Regions from separate parts of the Homo sapiens genome. Here regions 1, 2, 4, 5, 6 and 7 are each linked to region 3. The links come from fine-mapping of genetic effects on gene expression. A gene starts in region 3. Each other region holds a variant in brackets. All regions are shown on one strand. Distances are from middle to middle.

Region 1 (4,064 bases), 280 kb before region 3:
GATGACTCCAGAGTGCAGGCACAGTTCTGGGATTCTCCAGCTAAGAAGCCAGCCAGGGGAAGGTGGGAAATCCATCCCATTTCAGATAGAGACATAGAAACACTGCAGGACTGTGGAGCTCCTGCTGGGAACTAGGGAGGCTACTGCACTGAAGGCAGGCAGGATCACCCTATCTGCAGGCCTGCAGCGGCCTCAGGGAGGAATCCCAGCCGGGCACTGCCCTACCTGGCAAAAAAGAGCCTTTCTCTGTGGGCGCGGTGGCTCACGCCTACAATCCCAGAGCTTTGGGAGGCCAAGGCGGGCGGATCACTTGAGGCCAGGTGTTCAAGACCAGCCTGGCCAACGTGGTGAAATCCCCCGTCTCTATTAAAAATACAAAAATTAGCTGGGCGTGGTGACGCGTGCCTGTAATCCAGCTACTGAGGTGGCTGAGACATGAGAATCGCTTGAATCTGGGAAGCAGAGGCTGCTGTGAGCTGAGATTGTGCCACTGCACTCCAGCCTGAGTGACAGAGCGACTGTCTCAAAAAAAAAAAAAAAAAAAAAAAAAAAAGGCTTTCTCCCAAGAGACACAGGAAAAAGGCCTCCGGCCTCCTTATACAAGGGAAGGCATGAAAGCCAGGATGTGCATATGTGTGTAACTATCTAGAAATAAACTCAAGGCCCAGACAAGGCCCATCAGAGAGGCACGTCTGTTCTGTGTAGCTCACTTTGTTTTTGGATAGGCAGACAATCGGGACACCACACTGGAAAAACAATGAGGGGGAGGGATCCTGCCCACCCCTTGGCCAGCAGCTGGCCTCTGGCAAGGTACTGTACCCCTTGGAGCCTCAGTTTCCTCATCAGCAAGTGGGTATAATAACATATTCTTATCTTGCAGTGTCTGAGGATCGCATGAGATAAAGGACTTGAAAGAGCCCAGCACGGGGCCACGGACCCAGTGAGTCTATCTTTCCTTGACTTTGAGGTTGTTTTAAACTTGAGTCATAAGTTAAATGGATTTTGGAGTAAGCTGAATAATATCATACTTTGTCCTAAAAAAATGACTCTGTGTTCCTCATCTCCTTCCAAAAAGCATGTCAGGAACTTATAATAAAAGGCAATAAAACCCTTTACGAGGGTAGAAAATAAGAGCTGAGTAATAAAGTGTGTATTTGGCAGGGTCTCGGGTGATTACACACAGAAGCCAGGCTAAAGGAAGCTCCAGCCATTGAACTCAAAACAGGCTTCAGCTTCCAGAAGTCAAGGCAGAGAGAGAAATGAAGGGTGCTTCTTGCCGGTGAGCGCTAAGGAGTGTATCTGGAGGGTCTCTGCGTAAGGAACTCGACACTGCAAACCAGTGGAACAAGGAGGCAGAAAGCCTGCGCCCAGCTCCAGGGAGAAGAGTCTGAGGCCTGGAGAAAACGTGCCACTGCCTCCCCTTGGGCCCAGTTGGCCCGGGGTCCTCTTGGTGGTGAGCCAGCCTGGCTTCGTCACCATGGCCACCTTGTGAAGTTGCTTAGGGGCTGGGCATTCATTCGTTCGCTGTTCTGTGCATTTACATGCCTGGGGGCTGCCCGTGCTGAGTGTGGGGCGATACCTCTTGGACAAAACCATTAGAGGTTTTTTTGGAGGAGATGCTTGAGCTAGGCTTGAAGGACAAAGGGTAATGATCTTGGGGTGGGAGTCCAGGTAGAGGAGGAGATGTTCTGGGTGCGGGAAGACATAAGAGTGAAGGCTCAGAAGGTGGAGAGCCCTGGACATCCATGGTGAGGCTGGAGGTGGGGACATGGCGTGGGGGGTGATGAGAGCTGCAGGAGGTCACGGCAGTGAGAAGAGAGAAGAGGACATGGGTCCGAGACATGGAGAAGGAGGCTCATGGGGACTTGGCGTGGGCAGGGAAGGGATCGAGGATGCAGCCAGGTGTCTACACAGGGAAGCAGGTGGCTAGATGCCTCCTCCCTGTGACGGGGAAGCCCAGGGAAGAAAGCTGGGGGAGATGCTGGCTTCGGCAGGGCAACGTCCAACCTCGGGGACCCGGAGGAGAGGATGTGGCTGGAGGCAGGGAGAGGACATGGTCAGTGTCACAGCAGTGGGAGACTGTGGGAGAGAGGAGAGGAGACGACCAAGGGAGATTCATTCACGGGGCAGGTGGGTCCCGTGAGAATGGCAAAGGAGCCCGGGTCACAGATGAGGGAGGAAGCGCAGGGAGGAAGCGCAGCCCAGACAGCCGGGACTGCCCAGCATGGGGGAGTGGCCAAGGGTGGGGGTCAAGAAAGAGAAAGACAGCAAAGCATCCAGTGTGGCCATCAGAGGTCAGCATGACTTTAGCTAAGACGATGTCAGAGGGGCTTAGGGAAGTCCCTG[G/A]GCGAAGGGGGCAATCTGCTGGGGACTGGGTAGGGGGAGTTCTGGGTGAAGCAGAGACAGCAGGAAGGAAGGGTGGTGAATACAGGTGCCTCTGTGGGCTGCAGGGAAGGGAGGTGGGGGAGTCTCCTCCTGGCGGCTCTGCCAAGGAAGGACAGGCCACGTCTGGGGAGGGATGAAACCCACAGGAGAACCCGGTTGTGCTGAAGGACCCATGGGGGAGGGTGTGGCTGGCGGAGTCATCACCTTCTGCCTCAGAGAGAGGGGGCTGCTCTGGAGTGGGGGACTAGGGGCCAACAACGAGGTTCGGGGGATGACTGGGGGCAGAGGGGACAGTCCTGGAATTGTGAATGCCAAGAAGCCCCGGAAAGGCAGTACTGGGTGCTGCGGCCTCAGGAAACGGCAGCTGGACTTGGAAGGGGGAGGAGCACCTGCCCAGGACCAAGGCATGACTCAGGGTGGGCAGCAGGTGGCCAGGCCCTGCAGTCAGAGCCTGGGGCCATGGTGGCTTCCAAGCCTTGGCTTAGGAGCTGAGAAAACCTGGGACTCACCAGGGTCGCCTCTTCTCCCAGGCTTGCCGCGCCGTCCAGGGGGCCCTAGACAGGAAAACAAGAATGCATTCATTGAGAAGGGAAGCCAGTGGACTTGGCTGCGTGGGGCATGCCCCAGCCACCCACCTGTCCGCTCGCAACAGCTTTCTGGGAGTGGCCTGCCCGAGGGGGTCTGCTGGCTGTGGAGGGGGAGATGCGTGGGGAGAAACCCCTTCCTTCTGCCACTACCTCGCCTGTTCCGCCAACCCCCCTCCCCAGGTGGCCGCATCCCTCATGCCCCACGCACCCATTCTGTCATTCAATCATCGGCTCACTCAGTCATTCCTAAGCCCTCCCCTAATCACAAAGATTCCCATGGGAGGCTCCTGAGGCAGATGCGTTTGCAGCTGAGAAACTTCAGACTTAGGAGGAAAGTAAGGGTGGGTTATCTTAGGAAAGCCCTGACAAACGCTGCTTCATATTCACTAAAGTAAAACAACAAAGCCAACACAACAAAGAGGCCATCACGGCCGCGCAGCGCCGAAATCCACTCATGACAGGCACTACACGATCCGCCTGCAGTCTCCGCCACTCGCTGGGGCCTCCAGCTCCTCCTTCCCCAGAGCCAGGGAGCTGCTCAGCCGCCTTCTGGGCTTCCTGTCCACGTCTGTCCTCCATCCGCGCGCTATAAGCCCTTCTGAATTTACGGTGCAGAACCCCCTACCTCCGCCTCTGGCCCTCTGCCCACATCAGACCCTGAGACCAGAGTAACCTCAGCGCTGAAGGAGACGCTTTGACTCTGGCCGTGGGAGCAGAGGTCTGAGGCCTCCCTCTCCCTCCCCTCACCTCTGTGGCGCTCACTGCCATCCTTCCTGGCGCCCCTTCTCGCCCCTGTTTCAGTGAAGTTGGGTGCAGGTACAAGATTGCAATGTGTAAATGGCATTTGATACGTCTTGCTCACCCACTGTATGCCAGGATCTGGGCTGGGCCTGGAGGCGACAGTGGGACAGGTTGTGACCCTATGACAAGGCACTGCCCTTTCCTGCAAAAGCCAACCTCAAACCCCGTCAAGAATTTCCAGAACAACCACGAAGGAGATGCAGGAGACTGGCCCCGATCGCGTCTGTGGCAGGATGGAAAAATGAGTGTGGGTGTCTGTGTGTGTCTGTTTGCATGTGTCTGTGTGTGTCT
Region 2 (4,064 bases), 110 kb before region 3:
GCAGTTGTTGGACATATGCCCCCTTTTCTTGCTTGTTGGCTGGGGGCCACTCATACCTCCTGGAGGCTGCCCACAGCTCCTGGCTGGGAGGACCCCTGCGAAGGCCTCTAATTCTTCGAATTCCTTGGACATCGTCTATCTCTGATCTTTAGACCCAGAATCAAAGGACTCATGTGATTAGGTCAGGCCCACTCAGAATAATCCCCCTTTCGGCAAACTTGAAGTCAACTGATTAGTAAACTTAATTACAATTGGTGTGGACACAACAGTGACTCCATCTTGGACGCTAATCTGCCATGTTGAATTCTGATTAGCCCTAGTCCTGTGAATGTCCCCTGATTTCTACTTTGTTTACTGTCCCTAGTGTAAGAACATGTCAACCTTGATGCTACTCCACAAATAATAGGCGTCATAATAGGAAATGGCGCATACAGCATGCCTGCCGTTCTGTAGGGCTGCCTCCCACTGTCTCCCTGGAGCACATACCCCTTTCCCAGCGGTATAAGAGCCCTTGGTCTGTTGAGTAACAGAGTGGAGATCTACCTGTCCTGCAGCCACCCAAGACCACGCTTCTGTCTGTAAGTTCCCCAATAAATCAACCTTTACTGACAATCTGGATTTGTGTGCCTCTTCTTTGGTTTTTTGGCTCCTTTGGTATTTGGGGGCCGCTTTGCCCTTTCACTGAACAAATGGCAAATTCCCTTATCTATATAATGTAACATAATCATGAGAGTAATACCGCATCATATCCACGGACCTGCCTACACTTAAGGGAAGAGAATACAAAGCGTGTGCGCTGGGGGCAGGAATCTCGGGGCTGTCTTAGATTCTGCCTGCCGTGCTCCTCTTCCACTGTGGCGCTGTAACCAGCAGCATTCTGTGAACTCCACAAGGGCCCTGGATGTGCGTGGTGTGTGCCTGTCAACAACATGGGCGGGGCCACTTTGGCCAGATCAGAGACAGTGCCAGGGCCCACTGGCTCTGTGCCAGCCACCATGCTAGGGACCTCCTAGGTGCAATGTCATCTCATCCTCCCTTTGGTGCAGACACTGTTAACTTCTCTGTTATGCAGGTGAGAACACTAAGACTCACATGACTTAAACTACTTCTCTGAGATTCCAAATATAAAGTGGTAGAGCCAGGGTTTGAACCCAAAGTGTCAGAAAGTCAGGTTTCCAATCCTAGCTTTGTTATTTTCTACCTGTGTTACCCAACTCCTCTGGCCTCACTTTGCCCATCCCTATAGTAGGGTTAACAGAATATGTGGCTTCGGATATTCTCAGGGGCTGTGGAAGGGGCTCTGTAAGCAATGACGGCTGGATCTGCCTCATGGAAACAGTAAAGCGCCATAAGAGGCTGAGAGATAGCGGCTGTTGACATGACTTTGAAGCACTTTTATTTCTATTTACTGGAAGAGGTTGTTTTCAGGGCAACCCAAGGATTCAGAAAACAACGAAACCATGAAGTCATCTTGGGGCTCACAGAGCTCTGAGCAGGAGAAACAGGGACTGGGGTTTGGGGAAGGCATCAACTCATGCTATGGCAGAGGCAGAGAGGCTTGTCAGGCATGGATCTTCCCTGCCCCACTGGAGTCACAGAATCTTCTAGTTTTACCCATATTTATGCAGGGTGCTGAGTCACCAATGTAACCCAGCAATCCATCTTGACTGAAAACAAATGGCTTGTTTAAATGAAAAGCAGACAGCAGAAGCAGAACGTCCTCAAAAGAGTGTCTTTCATGTCTCCTTATTAGGCGCCAGTGGGTCTTTTAGACAGTTTGTACCCAA[A/G]GGGAGAAGTGGTTAATCACTGTGCATGTTGCCTAATCAGGAAGCAAAAACCTTGAAGGACACCCGAAGTTCGTGTTAGAAATGCAAAACAGCCTGAACCCTCTGCGAGTGAAAACATGTATGTGTGCAACTGTCAACGTACCCCTCCTTCCTTCCCGCTCTTCCCTGGAGAAGGTAGAATAGGGAGAGGAAAGCCTTGTTGAAATACAGCCCGAGTCATTTGCTTCACAGGCTGGGATTCTTTCGGATGCTGGTGCTAATGGGTGAAGTCTGCCACTCTGATGCTTGCGAGAGCCGTAGGAGGTAGGAGTGATTGACCCCATTTCACAGATGAGAAAATTGAGACTTAGACAAAACTAGACATGAGAAGGCAGGTGCCAGTTATCAGAGAGGCAGCCTCCTCCTAGGCCCTTCATGCCACCTGAGGGAGGTCCCAGGGTGTGGGAGGAGGGAGCATGGGATTCTAGCCTCGGAGAGAACAGGCAGGGAAGAGGCTGGGCCTGGGTGGGGCGGTCCTGCAGGGCCTCAATCAGTTGAGCCAGACAGTGCCTGCGGGCCCCCGACAGGCCTCCCTGAACCTCACTGGAGCATTAAAGATGAAAGCCCCTTCCGAGCTCTGTACAGGAGATTGATGTGTGAGATGGGAAGATGCCATCTTCACCAGGGCTTGGCCAGGAGAATCAGTGGGTTGCCAAGATGCCTGGAGGGTCAGGAGAATGCAGTGAGGGGTTGAGACACCTGGGAAGCAACCTAGGGTTATCCGGGACTAACTGGAACAACTGTTCCCCTGGGCTATGAGGAGTCCACTGCAGAGGAACTGGCCTCCAGACTCAAAACGATAGTGCCATTTCTTATACAACCTACATGTCACTTCTTCATTGCCCAGATTCTGCATATTTTCCTAGCTCTGTTCCCTTTTACTTGGAAGTTGTGCTTTCCATCCAGTATCCCCCACACCAGCACTGAGGCCCACAGTCCGGGAAACATCTGGGTGGGCTCCCCTGAAATGGGTCCCAGCTGGGCGGCAAACGTTTCCTGTGCCTGCCAACCCCTCCCTTCCTGTGTCCACAGAGAGAGTGTCTGGAGAAATCAAGTTAATGTTTTCAATTAATATTTGGGAAAAATACCCGAGGCCAGTTGTTTTATCTTTGATGCCAGATATTCTTGGGTTTAAAGCAAAGTAGCCAGGAAAGACACTGATGGGCCTTTTGAGGGTACCAGAGCCTTCTGGGTGCCCTCTTGCTTCAGAGAAGACTCTATGAGAAGACTTACCCCAGAGGATAAAGGCACAGAGATCCTGGCTCCAGAAAGGCATGCGGCACAGACTCTGCCAGAATTTCTGGATTCGGGTGCCATACTGGGCTCCAAAATGCTGTCAGTGTGAGAAGAGGAGCTACTCCTAAAAACATTGAGTTTTCTTGTCACCCTGGCTTCCTGGGCCATGTGAGGCCCAGGGAGACAGCCATGTGCCAGGGCAGCCATCTCAGTGGCCCAGGACCTTCATCAGGACACAAGGATCACCCTCATGATGATGATGATGATGATGATGACCGTGGTAATGACAACAGCCAACACTCACAGATACTTAACACCATCAGGCGCTTTATGTGCAGGATTTCCTAGAAAGCAAGTACCCTTATTCATACCCATTTTACAGCTGAAGAAATGGAGGTTCATAGGGGTAAAGCCCCCTGCCCCAAATCACACAGCTATGGAGGTCGGGAGCCAGGACCTGAACAGAGGCTCTCACTCCCACGCCTGTGCTCCTAACCACAGCAACGAAAAAAACCCCGAGCTGCTGCCCTGATGTCCCTCCTGCCTCCTCTACTGGGCAGCTTCTCTTATCACCTGCCATGGAGATGCCGGCTCACCCATGCGCCACAGCGGCCGGTGAGGCTGCTCTCCCCTCCAGGTGTCCACAGCTCTTTAATACACCCCAGGAAGACACATGGCTCCTTCAGACCAGAGTACATGGGACCCGTTCCCAGGAAGTGGCCAGAGGGAGTCTGGGAAATGCCAGGATGAGATGATACATGTTAGGGACAAGTGGAGAAATGTGAATTGGGGTTGAAATTCTGTAATATTAAGGATTCATGTTAATCTTAGGTGTGATAATGACGTTGTGGTTATGCAGGAAGGAAAAAAAAGCCCTAATCCTTGAGAGATGAACAACAAAATACTTGTAAGTGAAATATAAGGCGTCCGAATTTGCTTTAAAATATAGTCATGCCTCTCTTAATGACAGGATGCATTCTGAGAAACATGTCCTTAGGCGAT
Region 3 (4,064 bases):
TTGTTCAAGCACTGTAGTTCACCCAGGTAAAATTCAGTGCAGCCGGGAGGGGGGAAGCCTGGGAGAGCAACTGCAGTCTCTCCCGCTGAAGTTCAGGACTCAAAAATCAACACTTCCCAGCAGTGGCTGCCTGCCCAGGATGCCCCTCCCTCCTAAAATAGACACAATTTGTAGTTCCTTGTAAAATGGTTGTATCAGGACTTCTGATTTACTCAATCAGGGCTTGCGGTTTATTTTTAGCAAATAAGAGAGGCCTCCTATGAGAAAGAGCAGCCACACTTATAGCGCTAACAGGTAGAAACTTTACTGGCCCTCTATAAATCAATTCAACACCCTGGTCTCCAGGCATTTGCCAAAAGCTAATGGGCGGCAATTATGAAACCATCGCCAGGAGTTTCCAGCAGGGCTGAGAGAGAGTTTTAAGTCTGCAGGCCCTTTCAAGGGTAAAATAGGAAATCATTTCATGAAGCAGCAATTTTACCCAGAACCCAGCTAGAAGAGATGTGATCCTAGCTTAAATTAAAGTGACTAAGAAACAGGTGGGGTGAACAAGGAGGTGTGGTACGCAAGTCATCTTCTCCCACTTTCCTTTGGAATCCAAAGGAACTCAACATTGGAAACACAGCTGGATACGTTAATAAAGATCCCAGCTGGGCAGTCTAGGGAATTGGGGGTGTACAGGCCAGTGCTCCCTCTCCTCCACCTTGAAACCCTGCCTGTTTTCACACAGCAATTGAGGATGCGCCCTTGGACAGCGACCTTGGGGTCTGGAGCAGCCATCTATCCCAGGAGAAGGAGGAAGGCTCGGCAGGGGAGGCTCTGGCCAGCCCACCAGGGCCTGTCCAGTTTCGTGGGGAGGGGAACTGCCGCACATGCCGCACACAAAAGGCGGAGGCTTTGACCAACATGCTGGGTGAGGGCTTGGAGGACCCAAAGGTGGCTCTTTCTTTGAAGACACACAGCAGCAATCTTAACCCTTAGAAGTGTCACAGAGCCTCATATGAGCTTTCAAGTAAGCTGTGGAAGTCGCGATTCCCAGGTAAGGGACGGGAAACTCCGGATGTCCTGCGAGCCCACACCCCAGATGGCACCGCCTGAAACCAGAATCCAGGTCCTCCACCCCCGATTGTTTCTCCTTCCTCTCATCTTACCAAGTCATGTGGGCGCCCCCACCCCCATCCCCGAGGCCTCAGTGCGACGGTGACCGCTCAGTCTTGGGGCCTGAGCTGCTGGAGACACACTGGAGCACAGCGGGGCCCAGCCCTCGGGCCTGTCTGAGGCTTTCCTCCGCCGTGACCACCGCCTCTCCAGGTGTACCAGCGTTGGTTAGGAACAGTAGGTGCTACTGGTCACAGTCACCAGATACTTCCCACGAGCCTCATCTTTATCCCCGACTCTGGCCGCCGGCGGGAAGCGGCGTGTCCGAGCGCACACCCCGTGGAGACTGACCCTAGGTCTGTTACTCCAAAGTCCCTGGTCTCTCCTTCCCCTTTCTCGCGGCCGCCTGCCTGGCACGGGACCCTGAGGCCGGAGCGGAGACCGCAAAACCCCTTGGGGCCGGCACCCCCTGCCTCCGCCTTGGCGCAGACGTGCCCATCTCTGGGACGGCCCCGAGCGCACGCAGCCGGCGGGCGACCCTCCTCCCAGAGACCTGCACGCTGCCCCCGGCTCCCAGCGTACCGCCACCCTCAACCCGACACACCCAAGTCCGCCCCAGCCACGCGCCAAGACGCTCACCTCCCGCAGCAGGCGCTCCAGGTGCGGCTCGGCCCAGGCGTCCAGGGCGCCTGGCGGCCCCGCGCGCCGCAGCAGCTCCCGCTCCTCCTCGAGCGCCGCCACCCGGCCCTGCAGCGCGGCCGCCTGGACACCCAGCAGCAGGCAGGCAGCCGCCGAGCCCACGGAGAGCAGCAGGCACAGCGCGCTCACCGCCCGGGACCCGGCCGTCGTCGCCGAGCGCCCTCCGCCGCCGCCGCCCGCCGCATTGCCCTTCCCCGCGTCGCCGCCGCCACCGGCGCGCTCGCCTGGGCCCATGGCGCGTTCGTCGCGCGTGGACTCTCCGAGGGGGCGGTGCTGCTGGGGCAGAGGCTGGGTGCGAGAGGAGCAGGCGGGACAGCCCGAGGCACGAGGTCCGCCGGGCGCGGGGGTTAGCCTCCGGGTAGCAGCGGATCGCCGCGCACGCCCCCTTCGCCGCAGCCAGCTCCTCCACAGCGGCCACTTTGGGCAGTTTCCTCTATGCAAATAGACCCTGCCAGAAAAGGAGCAGGGACCCACCCAGGGGAGGAGCGGCCGGGCTGGCCCCGCGCGGCGAGGGGGCGGGGGCGAGGAAGGAGCGAGCTCCTCGGAGCCACCCGTCGGCGCCGGGCTGATCCCACGCGCAGCGCGCACCTCTGCCCTCACCTAGCCCGGGCGCCGGCACCCGCCCCCGCACGCACCTCTGAGGCTTCCCCAGCCCAAGCCCGCACTGTGGACCCCAGAGGTCGGAGGGGAGCCCGGCGACACCGCGCCCCTTCTGCAGCCCACCCCTGGCTGGAGCACCCACCACTCGTGCCTTAGCACATTCCTCTAAACTTGTGAATTACCTTTCTGACACTTGTAAAAGTTCAAAACTTCAAATCCTGCAAAAAACTGAGTGGGTCTGTCCTCGGTGGTGGATTAGCGCCGCTTCGTGGCGGAAAGCGACCTCTGCGCACTCACATTTAGAGAGGCAGGGTCGAGATTGCGCCAAACAGAAATACGCCCCTTAGAATCTTCTCACGAGTTCTTAGCTGCCGGACTTCGGTGCGGGAAACAAAAATGGTAAGACTGTTTCTGGCCTGGAGAGGGCTTTTGAGAAAACTGAGACTATAACGAATGGGAAAGATTCAGAAAATGAACTTCAAGTCTTGTTCAACTGATGACTTAATTCTGTATTAGACGCACAACTTGGCCAAAAATTATGATCTAGTATGCACCACACTTAACCTGTACTGCGATTCTGCTGCAAATTTAAATCACAGGGCTGAGGCAAGAAGGCTGTGGCGTACAGCCTGGGTCCAGAGAACAGAATGAGTGGCACTAACAAGTCTTGGCAGGAAAGGGAAGAACTGCTGGAAGTCAGGCTGGGTTCAGATTCCTACCAGGCATATTCATGTCCTAAATGGGTCCCAAGTAACTCTTTCGCTAACTCCTGTAATACCTAAATGAAACAACAAACCAGCAGTTCAGATCTTTGTGATTTGAGTAACCCCCCAACCATTTTTTTTTAAGAAAAATAACGTTATATCCATCTTCCCTCTCACTCTGGATATCTTCTGGTTGTCTCATTTCTGTGGATACTCACCTTTTAGAACTGTTGAGTGCCTCTGGCTAACATGTTCCATCTCCTTCCCTTAATTCAGAGGGGAACCCCTGAGATGGCCGGGGGTTATGGTTGATAGACTTGGCTCTGTGCTAAAGTCTGGTGTATGCCCAATAGAATGAAAAGTTGGCCTCATTCTGAAAAGAGGCCAACACCCTCTTACAAGTCAGCACTACATTTCTTACAGGCACATAAACTGCACACCACCTACCTATGTTAATGTTACTGCATGTATTGTTTGCCATGTTCCTGAAGCTTCTGTGTATTGAAAAAGCCAAGCTCACTGGCCCCTGGGCCTCTGCCCTTGCCTACCACCTCACTACCTGCATTCCTGCTCTCAGATCGTTAAACGGCAAGCCCCTCCTCATCCTCCAGGTCAAGGTCCTCAACCTCACTGCTTCTAAAAGATCTTCCCAGACTGCCCAATTTAAGGTGGCCCACAAGATTAATCAGGGAATTGGGGCGGCTGAATTAAGATGGAAATACTGTCTGCAACTCATTCTAAAAGGCGAAAAAGAAAATGACTTACTTGTGTCCATTAGGGTCCTGGAAGAATAGATGGCATCCTCAGAGAGGGTGACTCAAGACAGCCTGAATGTAGAGCCACTTCACAAAGTGGAGATCAGAGGGGCCAGCAGGGGAGGCCGAAGCAGCACTCTGCGGGTATTGACAGTGGGAGGCCATTACCATCCCTAACTGGGAACCCTGGGGAACTTGGAGCTATAGA
Region 4 (4,064 bases), 51 kb before region 3:
CCCTCTCTTGTCTGGGTGACAATTCTGTAAAATGGACACCACGGTCTGCCGAAGGCGGCTGTGGGGCAGCATCCAGCCACAGGGCAAGGCCATGACAGGCGCCTTCTTTACTGAAACTGTGTGTGCAAGTGGTAAAATATACACGGCATGACGTTTACGTGGTGAAACGTGCGCGGCACGACGTTTAAGTGGTAAAATACGTGGCATGACGTTTCCCATGGCAGCCACAAGTGCACGGCTCAGTGGCGGTAAGTACATTCACACTGTCGTGCCACCATCACCACGTCCGCCTCCAGAGCTCTTCAACTTCCCAAACAGAAGCTGTCCCCGTTCTCCCTGGCTAGCCCCTGGCACTCACCCCAGGTACCTCCTATGAGTGGAATCACACAGTATCCGTCCTGTTGTGACTGGCTTAGTCGAATTCATCCACGTTTGCAGCCTGTGCCACAATTTCCTTCCTTTCTGAGGCTGAATCGTATGCTATTGTATGGATATGCTGCATTCTGTTTGTCTATTCATCTGTGCTACAGCTCATCATCATCCTGAGCACAGAGGAGCTGAAGGGGAGATGTTCCTCCCTCCTCCTCACACAAGAGCCCCAGAGGGCTCGTTTACCGCTCAGGGCTGGGCATTCCACCTCTAGGCAGATTCCCGCAGAAGCTCACACTGGAAGAAACTTAACGCCTCTCTACCTAACTGGAGTGAAAAGCTGCTTGTTTTTTTATCTTTCTAACTTCCAGTTTGTCAGGGACCCACGCTTTTATAAAATACACTAAAATGATGGGGTAGAAAAATGAAATTTAAATAACCAAAAACATAAAAGTACTTGCCCATTTTATTAAAAAATTAGATTCAGTAGACATAAAATTACTGTTTAAATTGCTTTCATAAAAGTTTCCACACATTCTCCATTTCTATTCTAATCTTGTTAGAGAACCATAACAAACAGTTCAAGGGCTGGCATCCATTTGCAAACCACATTTTGAGTAGCACAGCCTGGAGCACTGTTTCACAGCAAACTTAAACAACTAAATGCCCATCAATAAGGTAGCTGTTAAATATGCTTTGGTATATCCCTATTATTATTTAGCAATAAAAAATAATGAAGCACGTGAGTTAGCAATTCCAGTCCTAGCTATCTACCCAAGAGAAATGAAAACATATGTTCCCACACACACTTGTACAAGAATGTTCATGGCAGCACTATGCCTAATAAGCAAACAGTGGAAACCCACATGTCCATCAACTGATGAAAGGATAAACACACTGTGGAGTAGCCATACAACAGAACATTACTCAGCCATAAAAAAAGAATCAAGTATGGATACATAGTAGAGCACGAATGAACCTTGACAATATTACACTAAGTAAAAGAAGCCGGATGAAAAAGGCCACATGTTGTGTGATTCCATTTCCATGAGATGTCCGGAAAAGGCAAGGCTTTAGAGAAATTAAATAGATTCGTGGTTGGCAGGGCCTGTAGGAAGGGGCTTAGGGGTTAACGGCTAAGGGGACAGGGTTTCTGTGTGGGGCAATGAAAATGTTCTGAAA[A/G]TAACTGTGGAAGTGGTTGCACAACTCTGTGTATACTCTAAGAACCACTGAATTGCATACTTTAAACAGATGAACCGTACGGTGTCTGACTTCAATCTTAATAAAGCTGTTATGAGAAATAATGAGGCCGAGCACGGTGGCTCACGCCTGTAATCCCAGCAATTTGGGAAGCCGAGGTGGATGGATCACCTGAGGTCAGGAGTTCGAGACCAGCCTGGCCAACCTGGTGAAATCCTGTCTCTACTAAAAACACAAAAATTAGCTGGGCATGGTGACAGTGCCTGTAATCCCAGCTACTTGAGAGGCTGAAGCAGGAGAATCACTTGAACCCGGGAGGCGGAGGTTGCAGTGAGCTGAGATTGCGCCATTGCACTCCGGCCTGGGTGACAGAGCAAGACTCTGTCTCAAAAAAAAAAAAAAAAAAAAAAAGAAAAAGAAAGAAAGGGAAAAAAAAGAAATAATGAAGCAGAGTTCTCTATTAAAACATGTGACTTAATTACTTAAAATCTAAAGAAAATTCTAGGCCTGGATATTTTCACCAGTGAATTCTTCCAAACACTTCAGAAAAAAAGCAACACTAAACCTTACACATTTTTTTCCAGAGAATAGAAATGGGGTAACATTTCCCAACTTGTTCTGAGACCAGCATAACCTTATACCAAAACTGGACCACAGAAGAACACATATTAGACCATCTTTCTATAAAGACCGATGCAAATCCTAAACAAAAGATTAGCAAATTGAATCCAGCAACATATTAAAATAATATATCCCATCCAACTGGCGTTTATTCCAGGAATGCAAGCGTGGTTACCATCCTAAAAATCAATTAATATAATGCACTGTTTTGACAGAAAAAAGGGGGAAAAGTCATATGATCATCTCATAAATTTAGAAACACTATTTGACAAACTGTAACACCTAATCATCACTTTTTACAAAAGCCCTTTAATATTTCCTCTGAGTTCAGTTATGAAACCAGGATGCCTGCTATTTCCAATTCTATTCAGCACTACTGAAGGTCTTAGACAATCAATTAATCAAGTGAAAGAAACAAAAGGCATAAGAATTGGAAAGGAACAAACACAACTCTAATTATTTATAGATGGTATGGTAGAAGATACATGGAAAATCTAAAAATATTAGAATTAACAAGTACATGTGGCAAGGTAACTAGATACAAGACCAACATGAAAAGTCATCACCAACAGAAAGCAAATTTTAAAAATATTATTATTTAATATTCACACAACATTTAAATTCTTACCTATCTACACAAGTTCACACACAAAAAATTAAATTCTAAGAATAAATCTAATAAAAGATGTGTAAGACCTCTACTCTCAAAACTATAAAACATTATCAAACAAAATTAAAGAAGACTCAAATACATGGAGAGAGATACCATGTTCATGAATCGGAGGCCTGAAGAGTGTAAAGATGTCACTCTGTCTAAATTAATACATATTCAATGAATCTCATTCAAAATCTCAGCAGGGTGGCTGGGCGTGGTGGCTCATGCCTGCAGTCCCAGCACTTTGGGAGGCTGACGTGGGAGGATGGCTTGAGCCTAGGAGTTTAAGACCAGCCTGGGCAACACAGTGAGACTCCATCTCTACAAAAAAATCTCTGCAAAAGGAAGCCAGGTGTGTTGGTGAGTGCCTGTGGTCCCAGCTACTCAGGGGGCTGAGGTGGGAGGATCGCCTGAGCTTGGGAGGTCCAGGCTCCAGCGGGCCATGTTCACGTCTCTGAACTCCAGCCTAGGTGGACAGAACAAGACCCTGTCTCAAAAAATGAAACAAAGAAATAATTTTTAAAAATCTCAGCAGGGCTGTTTATCTTTTTTATTTTTAAGGGAATTGTCAAACATTTTAAACTTTCTATGGAAGTGCAAATGACTGAGAACAGTCAAGGCAATCCTGAAAATCTAACCTCTATTCTATTATCAATACTAACTATCAAGTTTTGGGAATTAAAATAACAGTATCGACACATGGATAGACAAATAGAACAGAACAGCAAAAAGATCCAAAAACAGACCTACAAAGCCACCAGAATAACTAAAAGAAAAGAGACAGAAAATCCAAGTGTTGGGGAGGATGCAGAGCAACTGGAATTGTCAAACACACTGGGTGGGACTATCACCCTCTTTCAAAAATGATTTGGGGCCGGGCACAGTGGCTCATGCCTGTAATCCCAGCACTTTGGGAGGCCAAGGCGGGTGGATCACTTGAGGCCAGGAGTTCAAGACCAGCCTGGGCGACATGGTGAAACCCCGTCTCTACCAGAAATACAAAAATTAGCCGGGTGTGGTGGTCCTCGCTGCTTGGGAGGCTGAGGCAGGAGAATCGCTGGAACCCAGGAGGTGGAGGTTGCAGTGATCTGAGACCTTGCCACTGCACTCCAGCCTGGGTGACAGAGTGAGACTCTGTCTCAGAAGATTTGGAACTATTTACTAAACATAACATATGTATACCTTACGCCCAGCAATTCTGCTGTAAGGTTTGTACACA
Region 5 (4,061 bases), 350 kb before region 3:
CTGGGTCCTGCCGAGAGCCGTGTGGCTTCCTGCCTGATGTGACACTGACTCTGGCCTGGGTCCTGCCGAGAGCCGTGTGGCTTCCTGCCTGATGTGACAGTGACTCTGGCCTGGGTCCTGCCGAGAGCCGTGTGGCTTCCTGCCTGATGTGACAGTGACTCTGGCCTGGGTCCTGCCGAGAGCCGTGTGGCTTCCTGTCTGATGTGACAGTGACTCTGGCCTGGGTCCTGCTGAGAGCCGTGTGGCTTCCTGCCTGATGTGACGGTCACTCTGGCTCCTCACCCTGGGGCCTGCGAGCTTTCAGGCCTTGGGCAGGAATGGCTCCTGGAGGGTTTTAAGGATGGCCCAGGAATTGGCATCCTGCTCCAGCCTGTGCTGGCTGGAGCAGGGCAGGCTCAGGTTGCTGGGGGTTGGGGCTGGGCCTGGGGTAGGGCTATCTAGCGGCACCTGTGGTGCCCACCCAGGAGCCAGACATAAGCAGGGGCCGGGTTTCCTCAGGCAGCCTGGAGGGTGGGGAAACTGGAGAGGAACGAAGACTGACTCATCAGGGACACCAAGGCGCAAAACATGTCATTCTGTTCCAAAGCACAGGAATGAGCCTCAGACACTGGGCATCCCCTGGAATATTCCCATGTGTACACCAGGGACCAGGCTAGGCACCAAAGGGAAGGTGGGGAGGGGGGCAGAATGGAAAGGAAGCAGAAGCGAGGAAGGCCGGGGCAGAGCCAAGGGCCCTGGCTGCCCCGAAGGCCCACACAGCACACGGCACACGGCACACAGCAGGCCAGGCCGCCTACCGCAGGGCATGGCCCATTGCCCCTCGCAGGGCCCCGCCAGCCTGGTGCCCCTCTCCGGCCTCCGCACGTGGGATTCTCCTGTTTCAAAGGAGACAAGGGCTTACTGATTTGGAGGGGAGTCCTGGGCCAGGCCCCGGAGCTGCGGGGCTGGGCCACCCTGCCCCTGCTGTCCCCGCCCTTTCTGTGCGCTGACCACTTCGCTCTTCAAGTCCTTTTCTCATTGACTTCTCAAAACTGTCCGAGGGGAGCGGTATCCCCCACTGCAGGGATAAGGACACTGAGGAACAGAGGCCAGAGGTCTGGGAGGGGGTCTCTAACTCTGGCACCGCTGGAGGTTGAGGCCGGCCTGCACACATCCCCGTGGCTGGAGTGGCCACGTCTGAATATCTGTCCAGTTTTAGTACGAAAACCCAGCTGTTCTGTTTTTCCTGTCTTTTCTGAGCTCCACCGGAAGAGTGTGACATGTAAACCCTCCCTACTTTCTAGAAAAAGGAACTAGGCAGGGCACAGTGGCTCACACCTGTCGTCCCAGCACTCTGGGAGGCTAAGGTGGGACAATCGCTTGAGCCCAGACCAGCCTGGACGACATTGCAAGACCCCAGCTCTACAAAAATTAAAAATTAGCTGGGCATGGTGGTGCATGCCTGTAGTTCTTGGCTACTTGGGAAGCTGAGGCAGGAGGATCACTTGAGCCTGGGAGATGGAGGCTGCAGTGAACCATGATCGCTCCAGCCTGGGCGACAGAGTGAGACTCTGTCTCCGAAAAGAAATAAATGGAGCTGACTTTTGAACTGTGGTTGTTTCAGGCACCAGTGCCTGAAACCACTGGGGCTGGTGGGCTGCCAAAG[G/C]CCACTGAGAGAGCACAGAAAGAGGTACAGGAAGGGTGTGGGGGTAGGCAGAGGGGATGTGGGGAAGAGGGAGGTGCTGCCCCAGCCCAGAGAGACTCTTCTGGGAAGGAGGAAGGAAGGGGAGGCACAGCCAGCCAGAGAGGTCAGGGTGGTCCCACCGTCTGTGCTTGGGGAAGCTGAGTTTCAGCTCAGCTTGGCCTCAGGCCCAGTGGGAGTCAGACCCCGACTTCCACCCCAGGCAGCCAGACCACAGCGATGGGGCTGGGCACTCACTGCCTCCGCCCCCAGCGGCAGCGTGTCTGTGCTAACTTTGGTTCCCTCCGCAGGGCCCAGCCCCCTCCCAGGGCACCGCTGATGGTGCTGATGACTCCAGGTAAAGCCCCTCCACTCCTGGTCTAGGCCCTGTCCACTTCCAGCCCAAGATGGCCCACAGTGGGTTCCTACTCAAGCCAGGCCTGTCCTGGGGGTGAAGAATGAGGGGCTGGGCCTCCAGCTCTACAGAGGGGCTGGGTTCCCTGAGTCATGCCCATGGTTGGGGGTGGTTAGGACCAGAGCAAGGGGAACCGCGATGATGGCAGTAGCAGCAGCAGTGGCCCTGACAGTGAGGAAGGCCAGTGCGTGACCAGTGGGGCCTCTGGGACTTGCAGCTGAGTTCCGAGGACAGGGAAGATGTTGGGCTGACCCTGGCTGGAGGCCAAAAAGACCTGGGGCAGGGCCCTCCTCCGACACCTACCACGGGACACGGCTGGTCCAGGCCTGGTGGTCCCGGCTCGCCCTTCTGGCCCTTCACTCCTTTCCGGCCGGGGACCCCTCGTTCTCCCTGTGCAGGAGGGGAGATGGTGGTATTGGTCATGGCTGCCAGGCTTAGGAACCTCCAACATCTCTCCGAGAGAAGCGCGTGGGGCCAGCCTCCCCCTGCCTCCGCCCACCTGCCCGGCCTGGGTTCTCTCTACCTGCTTCACCTGAGCCTCCACTCCCACCTGCCTCCTTCCCCCTCTCCTCCTGCCCCAGCTCCCGTCCAGCTGCCCTCACCTTCTCTCCACGCTCGCTCCGATCACCTTTCTCTCCTCGGGGTCCAGGGAAACCCTGACAAAAGGATTAGATGCTAAACCCGAAAATGAGGCTGGAGGTTTGCCCCTCTGTTACCGGCTCATCTCTGTTCCTCTCCCATCCACACGCCCACTTTCCCCCCTGCATATTCGTGGCACACGCTGGCCTAGCCCTAGCTGTAGGTGATACACTGCTGGGTACAAGGCTGATGTAGGAAGAGCATGCATTTACGATGCCAGCTGGGCTTGCTCCAAAGTAGTCGCTGGACACCAACACTCAGGCAGAGCTGCTGGCAAGGGGCTGTCTCTCACATCACAGACGCGGCTGGCACTGGTCTAGGCTTGGCTGGGGACAGAGACCCCGGAAACCATGGAAGTTATGTCACTGTCTGATGGGATGAGAAATGGTGATCTCTGTTCTGTGCCCTTGGCTCAACTTCCTGCACACCCATCTGTCCATTCATCTATCTGTCCGTCCACCCAACCAAGGTGGCTTAACATCCACTAGGAACCGGGCTGTTGGCTGGACACTGGGGACACAGAATTGGATTCATTGTGGCCGGGCATGGTGGCTCATGCCTGTAATCCCAGCACTTTGGGAGGTCGAGGTGGGCAGATCACCTGAGGTCAGGAGTTTGAGACCCACCCTGGCCAACATGGCGAAACCCTAAAAAACACAAAAATTAGCCGAGTATGGTGATGCGCGCCTGTAATCCCAGCTACTTGGGAGACTGAGGCAGGAGAATTGCCTGAACCTGAGAGGTGGAGGTTGCAGTGAGCCGAGATCGCACCACTGCACTCTGGCCTGGGCGACAGAGCGGGACTCTGTCTCAAAAAACAAACAAAGAGGCCAGGCATGGTGGCTCCCGCCTGTAATCCTAGCACTTTGGGAAGCCAAGGCAGGCAGATTGCTTGAGCTCAGGAGTTCAAGACCAGCCTGGGCAACACAGTGAAACCCCATCTCTCCTAAAATACAAAAAATTAGCCGTCCTAGCAGCGTGCACCTGTAGTCCCAGCTACTTGGGAGGTTGAGGCAGGAGAATCGCTTGAACCCGGGAGACAGAAGTTGCAGTGAGCCGAGATCATGCCACTGCACTCCAGCCTGGGTGGACAGAGTGAGACTCCATCTCCAAAAAAAAAAAAAAAAAGAAACAATTTTAAAAAGAGAATTGGATTCGACATGGTCCCTTGTTCACGTGTAACGGGGCAGGCAAGAGAGTGCTGATGACAGTCAATGCTCAGTGACAGAGGTGTGAAATAGGGGTGGTGGGATTCTGGAGGGAAGGGCTGTTCTATCACAGGTGGGGGTCAAGGGGAGTTTCTCAGCACGGTCCTCATTATAGTTGGGCCTTCTGGGGTTGAGGAGG
Region 6 (4,064 bases), 250 kb before region 3:
CCACTGAAATGTTCCATTAAACTGGTTAATTTTATGTGATGTGAATTTCACTTCAATAATTTTAAAAAAGAATCCAGCTAATAGTTCGTCTTCCTTTTGGCAGAGCAATCTGTTTCATCTTGGACTTAACGGTGCTTTTAAAAACAAAAATTAAAAGGAGGGAAAACTGGCTCTCCTAAGAGGGTAGAAGGAAAAAAACAAAAAAAGGCAAAGCTGAAACAAGTGCAACTTTCCTGCAGCTGCTTTTCCAAGGCCTCTGCTATACCGAGGCGTGGGTTTGCACTTGCAAAGAGTAAATACACTCCTCCCCGGAGCCAGCGAGCTGCTCAGAGCGGCGGAAACAGGGATCACGCAGATCTCTCCAGTCTGTCCCTGCCCCCTATTGGAATTCGATTTCCCATGGGAGGGGGGCCTGCGGAGGACATCAGGGAATGTGCAGCATGGAAGTTGCACGTGTGGGCCACGACACATTGCGCCAGGCCGGCCTCGCTCATCTGAGAGGGGTCTGAGTGTGGAGCCATCCTCCCCACAGCCTGCGTGCACTTGCTGGAGCGCAGAGACCCGCGTGTGAGGGCGAGGAGAGCATGCGTGTTCCTGTCCCGGTGATCCCCGGCCAGACCCCGGGAAGGAGCAGAGGTTCCCGTGGGAGTTGGAGCGTTTGTAAACCAACAGATTTCACCCACCTTTCCACTCTGGAGGCGGGCTCTAATGGCACAGTCCAGACGTCACCTCTCCTTAGTTTGAAAATTGGTTCCATAAATTGGAGTGAGTTCAAACACATGAGACCCTTCCAGAAACTGGGCTGACTGCCAGGCTCTCCACACATCCAGAGTGGGTGGAAAGACAGAGAGACGGAGTGGGGTGCAGGGTTATGGAGAGCATCCTTCCAGGGCCAGACTCCCTGCTCTGGGGGTAGGTGGGCTCTGCCGGGCTGGGGGAGGCGCTGTAGAGGGGGCAGGAGGTTGGGGACACTCAGGAGCCACTGCTCTCCCCGCCATCCAGGACTGCAGGCTTCCTCTGTCCCCAGAGACTGAGGCTGCTCCACAGACACCCCCCATCTTCCTGGCACGAAAGCATCACTCACTGTCCACCATTAGCGTCTGGTGATGGAAACAAACAGGCTCATGGGGTCATGGAGGAGTCAAAAAAATGATAATTTTAATCATTATTATATTTTATGATATTATACAATCTATTTGTTTATATATTTTTTCATTATTATTGTTAAAATTATAATCCCTGACATTTATGGAGCAGTGACCTCATGCCAGGCACTGTGTTTTGCGTGTATCATTTCACCCAGGCTCCTGACAACTCCGTGAAGTGGCAGCCACTGTTATCTCCATGTTAGAGCAAGCTGAGAAACGGAGGGGCTGTACTTGGGGCCACACATCTTGGGAGTCTTGGGAGTATGGGCAGGGGAACTGACCCATGCGGTCTGACTCCAGGGTCCATGCTGTTAGCCATGACTTTTTGGTATCAGGTGCTTCTGAAAGTCCCTTGAGCCTTGCCAGGGACCCAGGCAGACAGCACAGCTGGCACAGTCAGACAGACCCACCTCAGAACCAGGCTGGCCAGAGAGGGACGGTGTCAGTCTCAGGGCCTGATCTCCAGGAAGTCCAGAGGGCACAGTCCAGAGGGCACAGTGAGATAGCAAAGGCTGGTCAAGCCCTCAGAATGAAGCCCCAGGGACAGCAGGTGCTAATCCCACAACCCACAGGACTCTCAGCAAGGACTGCCTTCCCGCAAAGAGCATGGTACTGTGGCTCAGGTGCAAGCTGGGGCGCCGCTGCCGTCATCCTGGAAGCCCTTTAATGACAGCAGCGCAGCAGGTTGCTCCCCCAAGAATGGGGGTAGCTCCTGGGTCACCCAGCACCGGGTATGGGGTAGCTCCTGGGTCACTGGCCAGCACCGGGAATGGGGTAGCTCCTGGGTCACCCAGCACCGGGTAAGGTGTTGCTCCTGGGTCACTGGCCAGCATCGGGTAGAGAAGTCGGCTTGTGTTTGGTGGGAACCATGTACTTAAACTCCAGATGATTTGGTTAATGGGGGGGTCCTGGGGAACAGAGACCAGCTGAGGATATGCAGATCCAGGGCATCAGAAGAGAGGGCGACCAAGTGCCCACACAAGGGGGATCCTCTGCCTCTTTTTCCTTCTGGCTTAACAGGAATCTGTCTAAATTACATGTAAACCCGATGAGACTATCACAGCTGAATGAAGGCCAGAGACAGGCTGAGGCTTGTCTCTATCAACAACACATCTTAGGGCTTGGAAACAGAAGCTCAGGGCTGCATGAGCCTGTGGGTCATGAATTCACTGCTCCTGCTTTAGGCAGGAATTCCCTTCCAGCCTCCAGAGGAGTGCTCATGTGTCCTCCCCTTGAACACTTCCCCTGACTGGGAGCTCACTACCTCAAAGAGAGGTTCATGCTGTCTTTGGATAGCTCTGCCTATTAGAGAGCTCTTCCTCCACTGAACTAAAACCCATTGCCTCAGGT[C/A]CACTCAGCACTCGTCTGGGTCCTTGGGGCCATACAGAACAAACCCAACCTCTCCTCACAAAACCTCCTAAGAGATGGACAGGCAAAGCCACGACCACAGTTTCCAGAATTATCTCTACAGGGTGTGTGTTCCTCAAGCCTCCGCCATCCTGAAAACCTTCTCTGGCCCTGCCCCATCCAATACATTCTGTCCCTCTGCACTAAGACTCCCGAAATGAGATCCTTAAGCCTCAGAGCAGAGCAGGGCAGGAAAAACACCTCCCTTGTTCAAGGCATTGTGCTCCTGTTACTACAGCCTCAGATCCTGCACTGACCAGCAGGCAGCTGAAGCCATGAGGGGATGGCGTGGGACTGAGCCTATCCTTGGCTGTGTGGTGGAGAGGCATTCTCACTGACCTCACAGCCAGCTAGCATGTGTGGGGGAAAATAAGAGAAAAATGATGTAAGCACTGAGGATATGTTCCTTTATGCACTGGAGTAAACATGAGTGGGGGGACGTGAATCTGCCAGCGCCTCAGTGGGCCTCACTTCCCACTGCCTTGTATGGGGTGGGAGCCTCCAGCTGAACTCTGGAGTTTGGTGATGAAGACTTTCTTGAACTCAAGGGCTTCTGAATGCCAGCTCTAGCTGCTTTTCCCCAGCACTGGAGCTCTGTGGGGCTGGCAGAGAGAGGAAGCATTCCTGGCTTTCATGGGTAACCTGAGAGATTTTCAGGAGTGATTTGGAACATGTACAATTTTTGCCTTATGCAAGAATAAAAATCCCACCTAAAATGTGATTCTGCAACAATGACTTATGATTAGGTGGTGGGATGGGTGGGTGGCGGGTGGCTGTTGGGGGATGAAGAGATGAGTAGAGGGATGAGGGGTCGATGAATGGATGGACGGGTTAGGGAGATGAATTCTGGTGTTGCCTGTCTCTAGCTGTTTGACCTTGGGCATCTCACATGTTTAGCCATGAGATGGGCATCATACTCCCTCCTCACAGCGTTCTCATGAGGAATGCACCTATGAAAGTTCCTAGGCAGGGAGCCTGCTGCAGGGATGGGCCTGGCTGAGAACAAGGACACCTTTCTGACCAGCAATAAGCCTCACCAAAAAATGTGCTCATGTAAGAAAAACAATTATCCAAGAAGCATGTGTCAGAACAGCTTTGCTGGTGGCTCCAGCGCAGGAGGGGTAGAAGGGGAAATAAAAGCTGGTCTCCTTGGCAATTAACGTTCACTTCTGCTTTTGCCTTAGATACTGAAGAGCCCAGCTCCACACCACGACTCCAGCTACACTCCAGCCTTGAAGGATCTGAAGCCCACAGTGTGGGCTGCTCCGTTTGGTCAGAGCTTCTCAAATCCCTGGTGCATGCGAACCATCTAGGAATCTTGCGGAAATCCAGGGGCTGACGCAGAGGTCAGGAGTGGCCTGAAGTTCTCTCAGGAGAAGCTGATGGTCCCAGAGCACACAGGGAATACCCATCAAGGCTCTGCATGTGTTTGGCTGATGGCAAACTGGACACCGGGGATTCTAGTCCTCGGCCCTCCCAGGGGCAGTGAGGGAGTCTCACCGGAATGGA
Region 7 (4,064 bases), 100 kb before region 3:
CTCTGGCAATCTTGACCTAAAAAATTAATGAAATGTGTAAAAATGTACTCCAAAAATTCCAGCAATATGCTATTGGTTAGCTTATGCCTTTATTCCCCACCTCATTCCAACAATATGAAATTGGTGTAGTTTTGTTTGTAAAGAAATGTCAGGATAGGCAGGATGTGGTGGCTCACGCCTGTAATCCCAGCACTTTGGGAGGCCAGGAGGGCGGATCATTTGAGCTCAGGAGTTCGAGACCAGCCTGGCCAACATAGCAAAACCCTATCTCTACAAAAAATACCAGAAAAATTAGCTGGGCGTGGTGGTGTGTGCCTGTAGTCCCAGCTACTTGGCAGGCTGAGGTGGGAGGATTGTTTGAGCCCAGGAGGTTGAGGCTACCGTGACCTAGGATTGCACCACTGCACTCCAGCCTGGGTGACAAAAGTGAGACCCTGTCTCAAAAAAAAGAAAAAAGTCCGGGTGTGGTGGCTCATGCCTGTAATCCCAGCACTTTGGGAGGCCAAGGTGGGCAGACCACCTGACGTCAGGAGTTCGAGACCAGCCTGGCCAACATGGTGAAACCCTGTCTCTACTAAAAATACAAAAAAATAAAGTTAGCCAGGTGTGTTGGCATGTGCCTGTAATCCCAGCTACTCGGGAGGCTGAGAGGCAGGAGAATCACCTGAATCTGGGAGGTGGAGGTTGCAGTGAGCCGAGATCACACCATTGCACTCCAGCCTGGGTGACAGAGTGACTCCATCTCAAAAAAAAAAAAAAAAAAACACAGAAATGTCAGGATGAGTAAGCTGAGTACAGAGTAAAACTTGACATTAAGAAGAAAATCTGCCCCAGCTGAGTGGCCAGGGGAACCTCAGCTCCAGCTGTTCATTGTGTTGGGCAGCAGTGGTGGGAGGGGTGCCGGGGTGCTTTGCAGAAAAAAGAATCGCAGCTGCAAATACAAATTGCATATTCCTAGACCTTTGAAAGATAACAAAGACTTCTGCCCTCAACTGATGATGTCCTGTGTTAAAATCACTTGGCTAGGTAGTTAAAACTGTTTGAAATGACCTGGTCACTTTCTGATGTGGACGTGCAATACACATGTAAAGCTGGGTACCAGATTTGACTCTTGTAAACTTCAACCAGGTAGTTTTGAAAACACCCTAGAAGTGAACAACCTTGAATGTCCTGAAGATGTGGGAGTGTTCGACAAGATTCAGGCAGCTGCAGAATGAGGACGGTTGTCAGTGGGTGACGTGTTCAAGCTGCTCAGGCCCCTCACCGGGATGAGCAGAAAGGTCAGCATTTTCTTAGCCCAGGGAGGCTTAGTACTCTTGAGGCAAAGAAATCCTGCAGCATAAGTAAGATCCAGCGCAGAGAATACCCGAGGGTGAACCGTGATGAGAAGTCTCAGAGCGCACTGCGTAATTACCACGTGTAGAAAGCAAAACGTTGACAAGACACGGCCGTTAGCAAAAAGCCGAACGGTTACTACGCTCAACGAGAAAAGGAAACTGGGAGGGTTGAAAAAAAGAAACGAATAATTGGCAAATTCCAAGAGGCTCTTTCAGGA[A/G]GAGACAGTTGGGTGGTTTTGTGAAAGCAGAGGTGACTCTTGGACCACAAACATGAAGCCCACAGGGAGAGCCGGGTGAAAAAGGAAGGACAGAAGCTAAACAGCCAAAGAAAACCCAAAGCGTACTTCAGACATGCCAAGGCCAAGAGGCTCTGTATCTAAAAAGGAGCCCAAGTGAGTAGGACCAGTTGGAAGGCACACTTAAGAGTGTAAGCAAGACTCACAGGAACCTACTGTGTCTCGCCTTGGACTTCAAGCTGATGCTAAGATGGCGTTTCACACCCTGAGTGGGGAAACGAAGGAAACTGACGGGGGTGCTGAAATTAAACATCCCTCCTCTGGACCTCCAGGCTGCACCCCACCCTCGGCCACATCAATGGCACAGGACTTAAAACTGGACGCTCTCTATCCACTGGTAGCTCATGCATTCCAGAATCAACCTACACAGATCATGCTCCTCCCTCAGTGCCTGAGAGTTCTGCACAGGACGCTCTCAGAATCTAGAGGCTCCAGGCTGGGGCCAGGTCCAAGTCCCAGTTGACACCTCAGTGCCTGAGTGTTCTGCACAGGACGCTCTCAGAATCTAGAGGCTCCAGGCTGGGGCCAGGTCCAAGTCCCAGTTGACACACTATCTCCAGCCCAGGCCAGGGCTTCCCTGGTAAATCAATCTCTGAAGGCAGTCATGGTACCAGCCTCAGTTTTATTTATTTATTTATTTATTTATTTATTTATTTATTTATTTATTTAGAGAAGGAGTTTCGCTCTTGTTGCCCAGGCTGGAGTACAGTGGTGTGATCGCAGCTCACTGCAACCTCTGCCTCTTGGGTTCAAGCGATTCTCCTGCCTCAGCCTCCTGAGTAGCTGAGATTACAGGCGTGCAACCACCATGCTCAGCTAATTTTTGTATCAGCCTCAGTATTATTTTAAAGGAACTTAAAATGGTTAAACTTTAAAATGGGGTGAAATGAGGCAGTCCCCAGGATGGCCAGACATTTATGGGGCTGTAAGGTTCCCAATGTGATGCCTGTCCGGGGAATGACTCCGGAGAGTCCTGGGACCCAACTGCCACAGCGTCTCCTATCTCTCCTGGGAAAACTGGGAGGATGGATAAGTGACAGTGGAGGCAGAGAAACTTCAGTTTAGCTGCTCAGCATTTTCCCTAACTCACTCATGATAACTACATACCCAGTTCCATCCTAACTCGGAACAGCCAGATCCCACTGAAAACCCTGGGTCACTGGAACAGGAAGACAAGAGCCACATTTGAAACTGCCTCTGCTCTAGGTCATCAGCTTTCTCTAATTTGGTGTCCCTGCCCCATCAGCTCTGTGCAGAAGAGCACATTGTGGCTGGGGGTTAAGAACAAATAAGACAGTGCTGGCTGTGAGACCCTGGCTGGGTTACTTAACCTCCTTGAAACTGCAGAACAAGGATATGAAGGCATGACTTCACTGGGCTACTGTGAGAATGATGAGAATAATGCATTAAGCCCACGGCAGGGTGCCTGGCACACACGGAGCACTCCGGGGAGCTATTGTTCTCACTCCTCATTAGAAGGGACAAACCTGAGATGAAGCTCTTATTTGGCAAGGTCTGGGTGATCTGGTGCACTCAGGCCTCTCAATTTATATGAAAAGTCAGAATTCAATTAAGGGAAGATGACATAAACCCAAGAAAAGCCTGCTAGAGATTTGCCCAGGAATAGCCCTCTCCCCTGTCACCTGCCTGATGGGGAGCTGCTGAATTTTCACAGCATCATCCTCAAGGCTCTCACAGATCAGAGCAGAATCCCTGACCCCAGACCCGGAATCTCTAAATTTGCGTGTGACCTCCTCTCCCTTTGTGGCACATGAAGATTTCTAGTGATCTCTCCAGGCAGAATACAGTATTCCTTCCTTTCCCTCACCGCCACCGCCATCAGACGCCAATTATATTCAATGTTTTCCTTAAAATGCAACATGAGACCTATCGTTGAAGTCTTGCACCAATTTTCTCTTCTTATCCCCAAACTCAGATTTGCACAGCAGGCCGCCACTTTATAGACAAAACGGTGCGTGGAGTTTGAAGCACACATATATGCCTATGACTCTTTAAAAAAAAAAAAAACGCTTTGAGGTATGATTGACATGAACAACTGTACATATTTAATGTATACATTCAATGAATGTAAATTCAAGGAGGCACCAGACGAGAGTTCTGGAGCTCCGTGAGGGTAGCTAAGGAAGCAAATGGGATGGGCTCTGCCAGGCTTAGGAAGGAAGAGGTGGTGTCTGAGCACTCACCTGGACTTCTGCAAGGTCAGCAAACACAGGAGCAGTCGCTGAGCAGCGGTGCAAACACACCAGCTCTCCAACGGGTGCTTCACTGCACTTCCCTGCAGAGACCATTCTAAACCAAACTCAGCGCCTGGGAAGGCTCTGCCCCTCAGGATCTGCCCCTCATCCTTGTGGCCTATTGCTGTCGACCTGACTGGATGGAGGGGTCCCTAGATGGCTGGTGTGTCTGTGAG

Which allele goes with the higher level. Alleles are on the strand shown, and positions count from the first base shown. SD is a standard deviation of normalised expression in the study named. Not every link is listed here.
For the expression in thyroid of the gene that starts at base 2,227 in region 3, G is the low allele of the variant in region 1 and A is the other (small effect, 0.26 SD a copy in GTEx).
For the expression in sigmoid colon of the gene that starts at base 2,227 in region 3, C is the low allele of the variant in region 6 and A is the other (moderate effect, 0.68 SD a copy in GTEx).
As copies of G replace A in region 7, the expression in whole blood of the gene that starts at base 2,227 in region 3 goes down (moderate effect, 0.54 SD a copy in GTEx).

The links.
Region 1: its variant is fine-mapped to the expression of COL23A1 in thyroid (GTEx, PIP above 0.99).
Region 2: its variant is fine-mapped to the expression of COL23A1 in blood mononuclear cells (TOPMed, PIP above 0.99). The same link has a PIP of 0.9 or more in whole blood.
Region 4: its variant is fine-mapped to the expression of COL23A1 in blood mononuclear cells (TOPMed, PIP above 0.99). The same link has a PIP of 0.9 or more in T cells and whole blood.
Region 5: its variant is fine-mapped to the expression of COL23A1 in whole blood (TOPMed, PIP above 0.99). The same link has a PIP of 0.9 or more in blood mononuclear cells.
Region 6: its variant is fine-mapped to the expression of COL23A1 in sigmoid colon (GTEx, PIP above 0.99). The same link has a PIP of 0.9 or more in transverse colon.
Region 7: its variant is fine-mapped to the expression of COL23A1 in whole blood (TOPMed, PIP above 0.99). The same link has a PIP of 0.9 or more in blood mononuclear cells and monocytes.

What each region holds. Positions count from the first base shown.
Region 1 is chr5:178,303,981-178,308,044 of GRCh38, forward strand. COL23A1 (collagen type XXIII alpha 1 chain) reads right to left here. Exons shown (of 29, transcript NM_173465.4): 3 at 2,895-2,939. Among named protein-coding and RNA genes, the nearest start is that of PHYKPL, 73 kb to the left of the region's middle. RefSeq lists an enhancer at 2,459-2,970. The variant G/A (reference allele first, on the strand shown) is at 2,347.
Region 2 is chr5:178,475,789-178,479,852 of GRCh38, forward strand. All of the region lies in intron 2 of COL23A1 (collagen type XXIII alpha 1 chain), which reads right to left. Among named protein-coding and RNA genes, the nearest start is that of COL23A1, 110 kb to the right of the region's middle. The variant A/G (reference allele first, on the strand shown) is at 1,788.
Region 3 is chr5:178,588,167-178,592,230 of GRCh38, forward strand. It overlaps COL23A1 (collagen type XXIII alpha 1 chain), which reads right to left and starts at 2,227. Exons shown (of 29, transcript NM_173465.4): 1 at 1,738-2,227. The coding sequence starts at 2,031. RefSeq lists an enhancer at 673-1,573 and a silencer at 2,229-2,428.
Region 4 is chr5:178,537,589-178,541,652 of GRCh38, forward strand. All of the region lies in intron 2 of COL23A1 (collagen type XXIII alpha 1 chain), which reads right to left. Among named protein-coding and RNA genes, the nearest start is that of COL23A1, 51 kb to the right of the region's middle. The variant A/G (reference allele first, on the strand shown) is at 1,552.
Region 5 is chr5:178,239,664-178,243,724 of GRCh38, forward strand. It overlaps COL23A1 (collagen type XXIII alpha 1 chain), which reads right to left. Exons shown (of 29, transcript NM_173465.4): 26 at 2,678-2,731; 27 at 2,379-2,465. Among named protein-coding and RNA genes, the nearest start is that of PHYKPL, 8.9 kb to the left of the region's middle. RefSeq lists an enhancer at 1,202-1,321. The variant G/C (reference allele first, on the strand shown) is at 1,646.
Region 6 is chr5:178,336,684-178,340,747 of GRCh38, forward strand. The region is part of intron 2 of COL23A1 (collagen type XXIII alpha 1 chain); the gene reads right to left. Among named protein-coding and RNA genes, the nearest start is that of PHYKPL, 110 kb to the left of the region's middle. The variant C/A (reference allele first, on the strand shown) is at 2,499.
Region 7 is chr5:178,485,035-178,489,098 of GRCh38, forward strand. All of the region lies in intron 2 of COL23A1 (collagen type XXIII alpha 1 chain), which reads right to left. Among named protein-coding and RNA genes, the nearest start is that of COL23A1, 100 kb to the right of the region's middle. The variant A/G (reference allele first, on the strand shown) is at 1,556.